2 linked regions of the Homo sapiens genome follow. The protein of the gene in region 2 interacts with the protein of the main gene of each other region in a pairwise test. Each region holds a gene or a part of one and is shown on either strand. Other genes may lie near its edges.

Evidence for each region.
Region 1: the proteins of MON1A (region 2) and CCZ1 interact in binary tests that used the Homo sapiens proteins (3 or more experiments, as listed by UniProt).

Annotation. Positions count from the first base shown.
Region 1 is NC_000007.14:5,915,728-5,922,771, reverse strand, and holds part of CCZ1 (vacuolar fusion protein CCZ1 homolog), read right to left. Parts: intron 3,906-7,044; coding exon 3,872-3,905; intron 2,924-3,871; coding exon 2,806-2,923; intron 1-2,805. UniProt on the Homo sapiens protein: Acts in concert with MON1A, as a guanine exchange factor (GEF) for RAB7, promotes the exchange of GDP to GTP, converting it from an inactive GDP-bound form into an active GTP-bound form.
Region 2 is NC_000003.12:49,919,784-49,926,827, forward strand, and holds part of MON1A (vacuolar fusion protein MON1 homolog A), read right to left. Parts: intron 1-7,044. UniProt on the Homo sapiens protein: Plays an important role in membrane trafficking through the secretory apparatus. Not involved in endocytic trafficking to lysosomes.

The sequences.
Region 1 (7,044 bases), on a different chromosome or scaffold from region 2:
CTACGACACTATGTAACGAAGCTTTCCCTCATATCATCCCCAGTGGACATCACTGTAAAACGCAGTCGCCTTTTCCACTGCAGTCTGATGAACATTTTAAATGGGATGTACCTTTTTATTTCTTAAACTGACTAGGCAGTGCTACGACGCTGCCTCCCAGGTCAGAGTCTGTGACCTCCTCGGGGACCTAGTGGGAAAAGCTGGGCCTCACTGCTCCTGGGGCCCCTCCCCTCCCCTCCCTGCACCCTCAGTGTCCACCCTGGGGCCTGGATGGGGCCTGAGCACAGCCCCGCCCCTGGGCTCAGAGGCCTCCTCTGCTTGCTTCAGGGTTAGCAGCCACGTTCTGGAGGGCTGGGGGTACCAGAAATCCGACCTCCGGACCAATGGGGTACTCATGAAATACTCTACGTCCAGGCAAAGAAAGAACGTGGAGGATTGAGTTTCCAGGAACATGTAAAGAAACTTCTTATAAAACCAGAATTTGTTTTCATAGTTCCCTAAGGTTAAGGAAAGTATAATGACAAGAAAAACTGTTTGGAAAGAGTTGTAAATTTAGTTGTCTGGGTAGACAAGGAACTTAAATCGGGTGTAAGCTTCTATCCTCAAAACACTCTGTGAGGCCAGGAGCAGTGGCTCACGCCTATAATCCCAGCACTTTGGGAGGCTGAGGCAGGCAAATCACTTGAGGTCAGGAGTTCGAGATCAGCCTAGGCCACATGGCGAAACCCCGCCTCTACCAAAAATACAAAAATTAGCCAGGCGTGGTGGCACACACCTGTAGTCCTAGCTCCCGGGGAGGCTGAGGTAGGAGGATCACTTACAGCCTGGGAGGTCAAGGCTGCAGTGAGCCATGATTGCACCACTGCACTCCAGCCTGGGCGACAGCAGGAGACCCTGTCTCCAAAAACAAACCCACAAAAAAACAAAACAGGTGACACGTTCTCTATGGTCACTACACTTTGTCACTTTCCATCTGTTAGTTGATAACCTGCATGATCCAAACCGATTTAACTCACTTTTGCCTCCTTCACAAAGGAAAACCTGGTATTTTCACGGCCAAAGGATTCAATGATTCAGCAGCACTGTCAAGATATAAGCTGTTGGCTGGGCATGGTGGCTCATGCCTGTAATGCTAGCACTTTGGAAGGCCGAGGTGGGTGGATCACCTGAGGTCAGGAGTTCAAGACCAGCCTGGCCAACATGGCAAAACCCTGTCTCTACTAAAAATACAAAAATTATTAGCTGAGTGTGGTGGCACACGCCTGGAGTCCCAGCTACTCGGGAGGCTGAGGCAGGAGAATTGCTTGAATGAACTCAGGGGCTGGAGGTTGCAGTGAGCTGAGATCATGCCACTGCACTCCAGCCTGGGTGAAAGAGTGAAACTCTGTCTCAAAAAATAAAAACAAAAAGCAACAAAGATGTAAGCTGTTGACAGCAGTAATCCACACACTGTTGTACAAAACCTAGAGGTGCTTTCACCTTTGCTCGCTTCTGCGCTCTTAGAGGCCCACGGTTATACAAGACCATGCAGAAATAACATATGGGCCGGGCGCGGTGGCTCACGCCTGTCATCCCAGCACTTTGGGAGGCCGAAGTGGGTGGATCACGAGGTCAGGAGTTCGAGACCAGTCTGACCAACATGGTAAAACCCAGTCTCTACAAAAATTAGCCAGGCATGATGGCACCCAGCTACTCAGGAGGCTGAGGCAGGAGAATCGCTTGAACCTGGGAGGCGGAGGTTGCAGTGAGCTGAGAACAGACCATTGCACACTCCAGCCTGGGCAACTGAGACTCTGTCTTAAAAAAAAAAAAAAAAAAAACCCAAAAAACAACGTATGAACATTAAGACCATGAGCGTATGCAGAAATTCACAGCCTTTTAGTAACTTCTCAAATGTGTAGAGAGCCCATTTAAAAGCAGGACTTCAACTTCGCAAAGTGCTTTCCATCGCCTCACTTTCACTTTATAATAACTATTTTATATTGAGAAAAGATAAGCATGGCCGGGTGCGGTAGCTCACACCTGTAATCCCAGCACTTTGGGAGGCTGAGGCAGGTGGATCACTTGAGGTCAGGAGTTCAAGACCAATCTGGCCAACATGGTGAAACCCCGTCTCTACTAAAAATACAAAAAGGAGCCGGGCATGGTGGTGCACGCCTGTAATCCCAGCTACTCAAGAGGATGAGGCATGAGAATCGCTTGAGCCTGGGAGGCGGAGGCTGCAGTGAGCCAAGATCAAGCCACTGCACACTCCAGCCTGGGCGACAGAGTGGGAATTTGTCTCAAAAAAAAAAAAAAAAAGCCAGGGAGAAAGAATTCAAGGACATTTCAGTGTCTAGAGAGCCGGAGGAGTGAATCCCGCCTCTCCCACTCAGTGTAGACACTTCAGGCTGCCAGACTGAGTACCCAGGCCCAGTGCCCCACATCCCAGCCAGTTTCCCCTACACATTTTCACACAACGAGAGGCAAAATGCTTTCAGTCTGTGCACACCAAGACCACGCCGATGACTACTGTCCAAGTGAACGTAACAATCTGGGCTGGTGAAATGGGACGTTCCATTCGGGGGGAGCTGAGGGAAGGTATTTACCAGAAGGCCCAGCCCCAGCTGCCAGCGTGGGGCAGAAACACTCAGGGTGACTGTCCCCGGGACCCTTTCAGACAGAGGCCTGAATGGCACGTAGCACCATCCTCTACAGTCCACGAGAACACAGGACTGTTAATACCACCCGTATTTGTAAGTGAAAACTACGTGTATTTCAAAAGCCGTTCAATGCCTGAAAGTGAACCGAAAGCAAAGTACAAACCCGGACATCCTCTTGTTGATGTTAAACTGTTCACAGATGTCAGAGGCCAGCACTGTGAGCTGGGGCCCAACGATGCTGTCCAGTCTTCGGCAAAAATCCAACGTTGGGTGGACAGAGGCTGGCAAGTCATGACAAAAAATACCAGTAAGATTCATTTTACTGTGCGACGCTGAACAACAGTATTCAAACGAAAACTTCACTGGTCTGGGAAAACAAACAATGAATGCTCAGGCCCCCTTCTGCTCCTCAAATAGAAGAGAAACAGAAGATAGAAAACCGGTTACATTTCAGATGAAAAAAGGGCGAAGACCTATCTCACCGTGAAAAGCTGACCGAGGCACACCCTGTAGGGTGGTAAACGGTTGCCTACCCCAGAAAGACCTCAGAAGGTCGTATGTTTATTTAACAAACATTACGTAGCACTCATGGGCCAGGTGCTTCACAGACATGACCTCATTCGATCCTCAGAACCCCCCCGAGAGAGGTACCACTGCTGTCTCCAGCTCGCAGTCGGTGGGACACAGAAAGATGCCCACACTCTACTGCTGACTAGCGGGAAAACTAGGACTTAAAAAATATGAGCACTGGCTAGTTAAGGAGACAGGGGGGTCCCAGATGGGGAACAGGGCTCCTCTCTATGCCTCTATATTGCTTATGACAACACATTTATCATTTAATGGGCTGGGTGTGGGGGCTCACGCCCGAAATCCCAGCACTTTGGGAGGCTAAGATGGGTGGATCGCTTGAGCCCAGGAGTTTGACACTAGCCCGGGCAACATAGTGAGACCCTGTCTAAACAAACAACCACAAAAACATTAGCTGGGTCCGGCGGTGTGTACTGGCAGTCCCAGCGACTTAGGAGGCCAAGGTGGGAAGATCACTTGAACCCAGGAGGTCGAGGCTACAGTGAGCTATGATCATGCCACTGCACTCCAAGAGTGAAACCCCGTCTCCAACAAAAAAAGCCCAAACAACCGAAACCCCCAAAACATATTTATCACTTAAGAATAGGATGCAGCAAAGTACAAAAAGCTTAGGCTGAAATCAGACAAAGGCGCGTACCCACCGTCGATCATAAAGCACACAGCCGCACTCATGGCCTGGGAAGACAGAACAAACCAGAGGTTATGAAATGGTGGAAAAAAGGAGACTTTCGTATAATAACAATCTGTTCAAAGTCAATGGGGAGAAGTCAACTGTAAGAAGCTGCTTTTTGGTCAACTAGAGCCATCTGGACACAGACTGCCCATTCCATGATGCGAGGGGAGTGCTGTTGACCTTGTCAGGTGTGACAGCGCCAGTGGGGAGGTTACCACGGATGTCCTCATCAGAGAGGCACAGGGAAGTGTTCGTGACTGACGTGATGACTTAAAATGCTCTTGCAAACCCGACAACACAACATGGAGAAGCAACGAAGACCAGAATCTTATTCACTTGTGTGATGGGGACTTAGGGGTTCACTGTTCTAGTCTCTCTGTGTATAGTCCAGAGAGAATAGAGAATTGGCAGAAACTGTCCATTATTCTGTGACGATTTCCATTGACACACGTTTACAAAGACAGCAAATGGATATCATCCTGTCTCACTTTATTATAGCAAGTAATTACAGTTATGACATTAGACCTAGCAACCGACAACAACCAGGACCACAGATAACCAAAAATGTTTAAAAGTTATCAAAGCAATGTATGGTTAAGAGAGGCTGAGCAGAACACCAGGCCTGATGATGAAAGCCACAGATTTCGTTCTCTGACCCTCCTCCCCGGCAACCACTTTACACTGTCATTAGACAACAGCGTTATCCTAACTCTTCAACGTATCCTCTTTGGGCATCGTACTGACTTCCTGCTCATGTCATGACAGGTGTGACCCCTCGTCTGCCTTCCCCCTCCTCCTCTATGGTTTATAGCATTCTATTTCCTCCGCTGGCCGCCTTCCACCAGCCACAGCCTCCGCTCCTGAACTCACATTCCCACCTGCCCCAGTACCTCTTCCCACTTCCGAGAGCGAAATCCTGTCTCAAGAGAAGAAAGATCTCAAATCAGTGACCTGACCTTTCGTCTTAAGATCCTGGACAACAGGAGTCAACTAAACCTAAAGCAAGTGGGGCCGGGTGTGGTGGCTCATACCTGTAAGCCCAGCACTTTGGGAGGCCGAGGTGGGCGGATCACCTGAGGTCAGGAGTTTGAGACCAGCCTGGCTAACATGGCAAAACCCCATCTCTACTAAAAGTACAAAAAAATTAGCCGGGCGTGGTGGTGCGCCTATAATCCCAGCTACTCAGGAGGCTGCGGCAAGAGAATCATGTGAACCTGGGAGGCAGAGGTTGCAGTGAGCTGAGACTGTGCCACTGCACTCCAGCCTGGGTGACAGAGCAGGACTCCGTCTCAAAAAAAACAAAAACAAAAACAAAAAAACCCAAACAAACCTAAAGCAAATGGAAGGAAATAATAAAGCATGAGAGCAGAAACAAACTCAACAGAGAAAAATCACAGAGATAATAAATGAAACCAAAAGTTGTTCTCTGAAAAGACCCAACATTGAAAAACTTTTCCTTTTTCTTGTGAAGATTCCAGAAGTATGAAGAACCTTTAGCTAGACTATACAACAAGGAACAAAGAGAGAAGACTCAAATTACTAAAACCAGGAATGAAAGAGGAGACATCACTACTGACTTTACAGGAAAAACGAAGGAGTATCCGGCTTTACCTACAATACCATGAAAAACCACGTGCCGACAAATCAAATAAATTAATTGAAGCTGACAAATTCCTAGAAAGACACAAACTACCAAAGCTGACTCAAGAAGAAACAAAATCAAAATAAACCTGTAACAAGTACAGAGATTAACCCATTTATGCTGGAGGTTGTAAATCTTTTTTGTGAAAAATGAGACCTTGGCAATGACCTTCAGCAGGATATAAATAACTCTCACAAGCTTAGTGTTCCAATAATGGAACACTGGGCATAAATGGTTAACTTTAAAATTTGCCACAAAGAAAAGCCCAGGTGCAGAGAGCTTGACTGTGAATTCTATGAAACATGTAAAGAGGAATTAACACCAATTTTTCACTGTCTTCCAAAAAAATAGGAGGGAACATTTCCCAACACATTTTATCAAGCCAGCATTGCCCAAAGATATCACAAGAAAACAAAACTACAGGCCAATATCCCTTACACCCAAGCCCGCACAGCACCCGCTCCACCTCTGGAGGGCTGGAGACTAAGGCTGGCCATGTGGGGCCAGCTGTGTCTCTGTGGCCAACCCCCAATCAAATCTCTGGATCTCGAGGCTCAGGTGAGCTTCCCTGGATGTCAACACTCCATAGAGACAGCCACACATCCTCGATGGGGAAACACTCACTGGGCTGTCCACATGACCCCAACGGGAGAGGACAGCCGGAAGCTCACACCAGAGTGGGACTCCATCTCAAAAACCAAAAAACCAAAAAAAAAAAAAACAAAAAACAAAACAAAAACCCAAAAAACCAAACCAACCCAAACCAACCTAAAGCAAATAGAAGGACTCCTGGTCCTTCCATTGGTGGCTCCTGCGCCCTGCCCCACACGCCTCTTCCCCGGGCTGATTTTAACCTGTATTCTTCCACTGTAATAAACCGCAGCTGTGAGTGCCGCCATTCTTCCTTCCCCCTGGTTTTGTTTCCCATGGTTTCTGTTATGTGAGGGACAGTATAATAAAATATTGAGGGAAGGGGGAAGCAAACCGCATTCACATGACTTTTATTGCAGTAGAGTGTCATCGTCCAATTATGATTACTATTACTTGTTTTGAGATGGGGTCTCACTCTTGTCCAGGCTGGAGTGCAGTGGCACGATCTTGGCTCACTGCAACCTCCGCCTCCCAAGTTCAAGAGATTCTCCTGACTCAGCCTCCTGAGTAACTTGGATTACATGTGCATGCCACCATGCCTGGCTAATTTTTCTATCTATAGTAGAGGCAGGGTTTCACCACACTGGCCAGGCTGGTCTCAAGTTCCTGGCCTCAAGTGATCTGCCTGCCTCGGCCTCCCAAAGTGCTGGGATTACAGGTGTGAGCCACTGCGCCCAGCCTTATTAATCGCTTACTGTACTGAATTTATAAACATTATCACAGGCATGTATGTACAGGAAAAAACACAGCAAGTGAAGGGTTTGGTACTGTCCCCGGTTTCAGGCACCTCCCGGGGGTTTTGGAACACATGGCCTTTGGCTCGGGGGTACTGCTGTAGAAAGCCTTTT
Region 2 (7,044 bases):
CAAAGACCTATTTTTTGCTCACATAAAATCTACTGTGGGACTGGTAGCAATTCAGAGTAGCTCCCTTCCAAGCAGTGATTCAGGAATCCAAGCCACTAGCACCCTATAGAAGCCATTCGGAACACATGCCTTCCACATCACCTGGCAAGGGAAGACAGAGATGGAGGATCATGTACCAGCTCTTAAATACTTCGTAGCTCACATTGGCCAGAACCAGTGATGTGGCCAGAGGGACTGGGAAATATATGGAGCTCACGGATATCTGGAAAGCAGGAATTGTCTCTGCCGTAGCCTCTCCATTTCTCCCATTCTCTCTAAACCAGTTCTGAACAGAATCTCACCTCCATTACTCCATCAACACTGCTCCCATCAAGGTCACCAACGACCTCCAGGATCATCTTACTTCACCCATAAACAATAGATAATTTGGTTATTTCCTCTCTCTTGAAACATTTTCTCCTCTTTTATGGCATACCACTCCTTTCTTGGCTCTCTTCTGACCTCATGGACTACTCCTTCTGAGTCCTTTTTGCAGTTCTTACTGTAAAGGGGCACAGAATTCAGTCTTTGGACCTCTTCTCTGTCTTCACTCAATCCCTTGGTGATCTCATTTGGTCTCATAGTTTTAAATTCCCTCTACATATTAATACTTTTTTTTAATCTCCAGCCCCAATATCTTTTCTGACTTAAAGAGGCACACACATTTAACTGTCTACTTCATGTTATCTCAAGGTTATATGCCTCAAACTGAACTCCTTAAAAAGGCCATCTCCTGGCCAGGCGTGGTGGCTCTCACCTGTAATCCCAGCACTTTGGGAGGCCGAGGAGGGTGGATCACGAGGTCAGAAGTTTGAGACCAGCCTGGCTAACCTGGTGAAACCCCATCTTTACTAAAAATATGAAAATTAGCTGGGTGTGGTGGCACACGCCTGTAATCCCAGCTACTCAGGAGGCTGAGGCAGGAGAATTGTTTGAATGTGGGAGGCGGAGGTTGCAGTGAGCCAAGATCGTGCCACTGCACTCTAGCCTGGGTAGCAGAGCCAGATTCTGCATCAAAAAAAAAAAAGGTCATCTCCTTAAAAAGTTGCTCCTAGCTGGGTATGGTGGCTTACACCTGTAATCCTAGCACTTTGGGAGGCCAAAGCAAGCAGATTACTTGAGCCCAGGAGTTCAAGACCAGCCTGGGCAATATGGCAAACCCTGCCTCTACAAAAATACAAAAATTAGCCAGGCGTGGTGGCACGTGTCTGTGGTCCCAGTTACTCAGGAGGCTAAGGTGGGAGGATCACAGGAACCCGGGAGGTAGAGCTTGCAATGAGCCAAGATCGTGCCACTGCACTCCAGCCTCGGCAATAAGAGTGAGACCCTGTCTCCTTTTTTTTTTCTTTTTTTGAGATGGAGTCTCGCTCTGTCGCCTGGACTGGAGTGCAGTGGCGCGATCTCAGCTCACTGCAAGCTCCACCTCCTGGGTTCATGCCATTCTCTTGTCTCAGCCTCACGAGTAGCTGGGACTACAGACGCCTGCCACCACACCCGGCTAATTTTTTGTATTTTTTAGTAGAGACGAGGTTTCACCGTGTTAGCCAAGATGGTCTCAACCTCCTGACCTCATGATCCGCCTGCCTCAGCCTCCCAAAGTGCTGGGATTACAGGCCTGAGCCACCACGCCTGGCTGGTAGAGAACCTGTCTTTAAAAAGAAAAAAAGGCCGGGTGCAGTGGCTCACGCCTGTAATCCCAGCACTTTGGGAGGCTGAGGTGGGCGGATCACCAGGTCAGGATATCGAGACCACTCTGGCTAACACGGGAAACCCATCTCTACCAAAAATACAAAAAATTAGCCGGGCGTGGTAGCACTTTTTTTTTTTTTTTTTTAAGAGATGGGGTCTTGCTCTGTCACCAAGTCTGGAGTGCAGTGGCTATTCACAGGTGTAATCACCACCCCACCATGCACTACAGCCTCAAATTCCTGGGCTCAAGTGAACTTCCTGCCTCAGCCTCCCGAGTAGCAGGGACTACAGGCACTTACCACTTCTCCCAGAGTTTTCACCATCTCAGTAAAAGACAATTTCATGGCTGGGCATAGTGGCTCATGCCTGTAATCCCAGCACTTTGGGAGGCCGAGGTGGGTGGATCACCTGAAGTCAGGAGTTCAAGACCAGCCTGGCCAACATGGTGAAACCCCATCTCTACTAAAAATACAAAATTAGCCAAGTGTGGTGGTGCATGCCTGTAATCCCAGCTACTTGGGAGGCTGAGGCAGGAGAATCACTTGAACCCATGAGGCAGAGGTTGCAGTGAGCCACGATCACGCCATTGCACTCCAGCCTGGGCAATAAGAGCAAAGCTCTGTCTCAAAAAAAAAAAAAGAAAGAAAGAAAGACGGCCGGGAGCAGTGGCTCACGCCTATAATCCCAGCACTTTGGGAGGCCGAGGTGGGCAGATCACAAGGTCAGGAGATCGAAACCATCCTGGCTAACACAGTGAAACCCCGTCTCTATTAAAAATAAAAAAATTAGCCAGGTGTGGTGGCATATGCCTGTAATCCCAGCTACCCCGGGAGGCTGAGGCAGGAGAATCGCTTGAACCTGGGAGGCAGAGTTGAGATCGCACCACCGCACTCCAGCTTGAACCCAGGAGGCGGAGGTTGAGATCGTGCCACCACACTCCACCCTGGGTGACAGAGCGAGACTCTGTAAAGGGAGGAAGGAAGGAAGGAAGGAGGGAAGGAGGGAGGGAGAGAAGGAAGGAGGGAGGGAGGGAGGGAGGGAAAGAAGGAGGGAAGGAAGGAGGGAAGGAAGGAAAGAAGGAAGGAAGCAAGGAAGGGGAAGGAGGGAAAGGAAGGAAAGGAAGAAAGGAAGGAAAAGAAGAAAGGAAAGAAGCCAGGAAAGAAGGAAAGAACGAAAGAAAAAAAGACAATTTCTTTTTTTTTTTTTTGAGACAGTCTTGCTCTGTTGCCCAGGCTGGAGTGCAATGGCGCGATCTCAGCTCACCGCAACAGTGCGATCTCAGCTCCACCTCCTGGGTTCAGGCAATTCTCGTGCCTCAGCCTCCTAAGTAGCTGGGACTACAGGCGTGTGCCACCACACAGGCTAATTTTTGTATTTTTAGTAGAGACAGGGTTTCACCATGTTAGCCAGGCTGGTCTCAAACCCCTGACCTGGTGATCCGCCTGCCTTGGCCTCCCAAAGTGCTGGGATTACAGGTGTGAGCCACCACACCTGGCCAAGAAAGACAATCTCATCCTTTCAGTTGTTTGGTGAAAAACCGTGGAGTCAGCCGGGCACGGTTTCTCACACTTTGTAATCCCAGCACTTTGGGAGGCCGAGGCAGGCAGATCATGAGGTCAGGCGATCGAGACCATGCTGGCTAACACGGTGAAACCCCATCTCTATGAAAAATACAAAAAATTAGCCGGGTGTGGTGGCGCATGCCTGTAATTCCAGCTACCCCGGGAGGCTGAGGCAGGAGAATCCCTTGAACCCGGGAGGTGGAGGTTGAGATCGCGCCACCGCACTCCACCCTGGGTGACACAGCGAGACTCTGGGAGGGAAGGAAGGGAGGGAGGGAGGGAGGGAAGGGAGGAAGGAAGGAAGGGGAAGGAGGGGAAGGAGGGAAAGGAAGGAAAGGAAGAAAGGAAGGAAAGAAAGAAAGAAAGGAAGGGAAGAACGAAAGAAAGACAAGCTCTTTTTTTTTTTTTTTTGAGACAGTCTTGCTCTGTTGCCTAGGCTGGAGTGCAACAGCGCAATCTCAGCTCCACCTCCCAGGTTCAAGCGATTCTCATGCCTCAGCCTCCCGAGTAGCTGGGACTACAGGCGTGTGCCACCACATTGGCTAATTTTTGTATTTTTAGTAGAGACAGGGTTTCACCATGTTGGCCAGGCTAGTCTCAAACCCCTGACCTTGTGATCTGCCCACCTTGGCCTCCCAAAGTGCTGGGATTACAGGTGTGAGCCACCTCACCTGGCCAAGAAAGACAATCTCATTCTTTCAGTTGTTTGGTGAAAAACCTTGGAGTCGGCCGGGCACGGTTTCTCACACCTGTAATCCCAGCACTTTGGGAGGCCGACGCAGGCAGATCATGAGGTCAGGAGATCGAGACCTTGCTGGCTAACACGGTGAAACCCTGTCTCTACTAAAAATACAAAAAATTAGCCGGGCATGGTGGCACGTGCCTGTAGTTCCAGCTACTCAGGAAGCTGAGACAGGAGAATTGCTTGAACTGGAGAGGCAGAGGTTGCAGTGAGCCAAAATCGTGTCGTTGTACTCCAGGCTGGGTGGCAGAGCGAGACTCTGTCTCATAGGAAAAAAAAAAAACAAAAAACCTTGGAGTCATCCCTTACGCCTCTCTTTTTTTCCCCACACCTCATATACCAAACCATCAGCAAATCCTGTTAGCTCTATTTCAGAATACAGGCACATCCAGCAAAATGTCTCTAGTTAACATTTTCACCATAGAATGCCTTTTTGTTTTTAATATCCAGCTTGGTTGTCAGCCTTCAAGATGGTCTCTAGTAATCCTCAACTCCTGCTATGCGACTTTGCATACTCCCTTTCCACACTGAGCAGGGCTGACCTATGCAACCAATAGGACACTGTGTAAATAACAATGTGTGGCTGGGGACAGTGGCTTATGCCTGTAATCCCAGCACTTTGGGAGGCCAGGATGGGCTGATCACTTGAGGTCAGGAGTTTGAGACCAGCCTGGACAACATGGTGAAACCCCATCTCTACTAAAAATACAAAAATTACCTAGGTGTCATGACGGGCGCCTGTAATCCCAACTGCTTGGGAGGCTAAGGTATGAGAATCACTTGAACCCGGGGGGAGGCAGAGGTTGCAGTGAGCTGAGATCGCACTGCTGCACTCCAGCTTGGGTGCCAGAGCAGACCCTGTCTCAAAAAAAAATGAAAAAACAATGTGTGACTTCTGAGGCTAGGTCATAAAAGACATTGTGGCTTCTGCCTTGTTCTCTTGGATCATTCCCTCTAGGGAAAGCCATCAGCCATGTTGTAAGGACATGTAAGCAGCTCTATGGAGAGAACTTCATGGCAAGGGACTGAGACCTCCTGTGAACAGCCAGTACCAACTTGCTAGTCATGAGTGAGTCATCTCGGAAGCAGATCATCTAGGCCCAGTCAAACCTTCAGATGACTTCAACGTAATAAGAGACCCTGAGCTTGAGCCATCCAGCTAAGCCACTCCCAAATTCTTGACCCACAAGAACTGTATGAGATAATAAATATTGTTGTTTTAAGCTGCTAAGTTTTGGCATAATTTGTTACACAGCAATAGTTAACTAATATACCAAACTTATGTTGATTCAGCTTATGTTTATTTATTTATCTATTGAGACAGGGTCTCACTCTGCCACCCAGGCCGAAGTGCAATAGTGTGATCATGGTTCACTGTAGCCTCAACCTCCCAGGCCCAAGTGATCCTCCCACCTCAGCCTCCCAAGTAGCTGGGACCACAGGCATGTGCCACCATGCCTGGCTAATTTTTTAATTTTTTGTAGAGACAGGGTCTCCTTATGTTGCCCAAGCTGCTCTCAAACTCCTTGACTCAAGTGATCTGCCTGCCTCAGCCTCTCAAAGTACTGGGATTACAGGTGTGAGCCACCACACCTGGCCCAGTGTATGTTTATACAGAAAATATGTATATTTACATCATTAAAATCTTATCTATATTTTTAACAAAGTAATGTGCATTTAAAGCTTCAAATTATATTCCAAATAGAACTGATAGAAAATTACTGAGTGCCAGCCTGGCTGACATAGTGAGACCCTGTCTCTACAAAATAAAAAATCAGCTGGGTGGGGCAGCTCATGCCTGTAGTCCCACCTACTTAAGAGGCTGAGGTGGGAGGATCGCTTGAGTACAGGAGGTCAAGGCTGCAGTGAGCCGTGATTGTGCCACTGTACTCCAGCCTGGGCAACACAGCAAGACCCTGTCTCAATCAATCAATCAATGGAAAATATATTAAGTTGAAGATTTCACACAGAATGTCCAATTTTCATGAAACAGATTACTGATGTTAAGTGGGAAATGCCTATATCCAGAATCTGACCACTTGTCACCTCCACAGCTACCACTGTGGTCAAAGCCACCAGTGTCTCTCTAGGAGATTGTTGCAGTAATCTCCTATCTAGTCTCCCCTCTTTTGCCCTTGTCCCTGCATAATCTGTGCTTCTTACAGCAAAGTGATTCTCTTGATACAGAACTCAGGTCATGCAGTTCCTCTGCTCACAACTCTGTAATGGTCCCACCTTACTCAGTGAGAAAGCCAATTTCCTCACAGTGGTGCACAAGGCCCCACTCAACATAACTCCTTCCCCATTACTTCTTTGACCTCATCTCTTATCCTTTTTCCCCACTAACTGTGATTCAGCCCAGCCATAGTGGCCTCCTGGCTTTCCTTAAGCCTCCTGGGCACTCTTTAACTTTAGAACTTTGCCGTTGCTGAACTTTCCCCCTGCACCCCACTTCACCTACTCCATTGCCTGGGCTAGTTATCTATGTGACTCAGTCCCTCACTCCCTTCAGGTTGCTGCTCAAGCATTACCTTATCAATATCCCTGCTCCTTACCCCTCTTGCCCTGCTTTATTTCTCTGGATTGAAGGTTACCCTGTGACCTACCACAAATTTCAGTATGGCTTTAAGCCACATGCGGGAGGAGTTCTATTTTTTTTGAGACAGAATCTCACTCTGTCACCCAGGCTGGAGTGCAGTGATGCAATCACAGCTAACTGTAGCCCTGGCCTCTCAGGCTCAAATGATCCTTCCACCTCAGCCTCCTGAGTACCTGAGACTACAGGCACGTGCCACCACGCCTGGCTAATTTTTTAATTTTTATTTTTGTAGAGATGGGGTCTCAGTATGTTGTCCAGGCTGTTCTCAAACTCCTGAACTGAAGATCCTCCCTCCTAGGGCTCCCAAAGTGCTGGGATTACAGGTGTGAGCCACCACATCCAGCCAACAGACATCTTTGGGAGGGAGATTTTTTTTTTTTTTGAGATGGAGTCTCATTCTGTCGCCCAGGCTG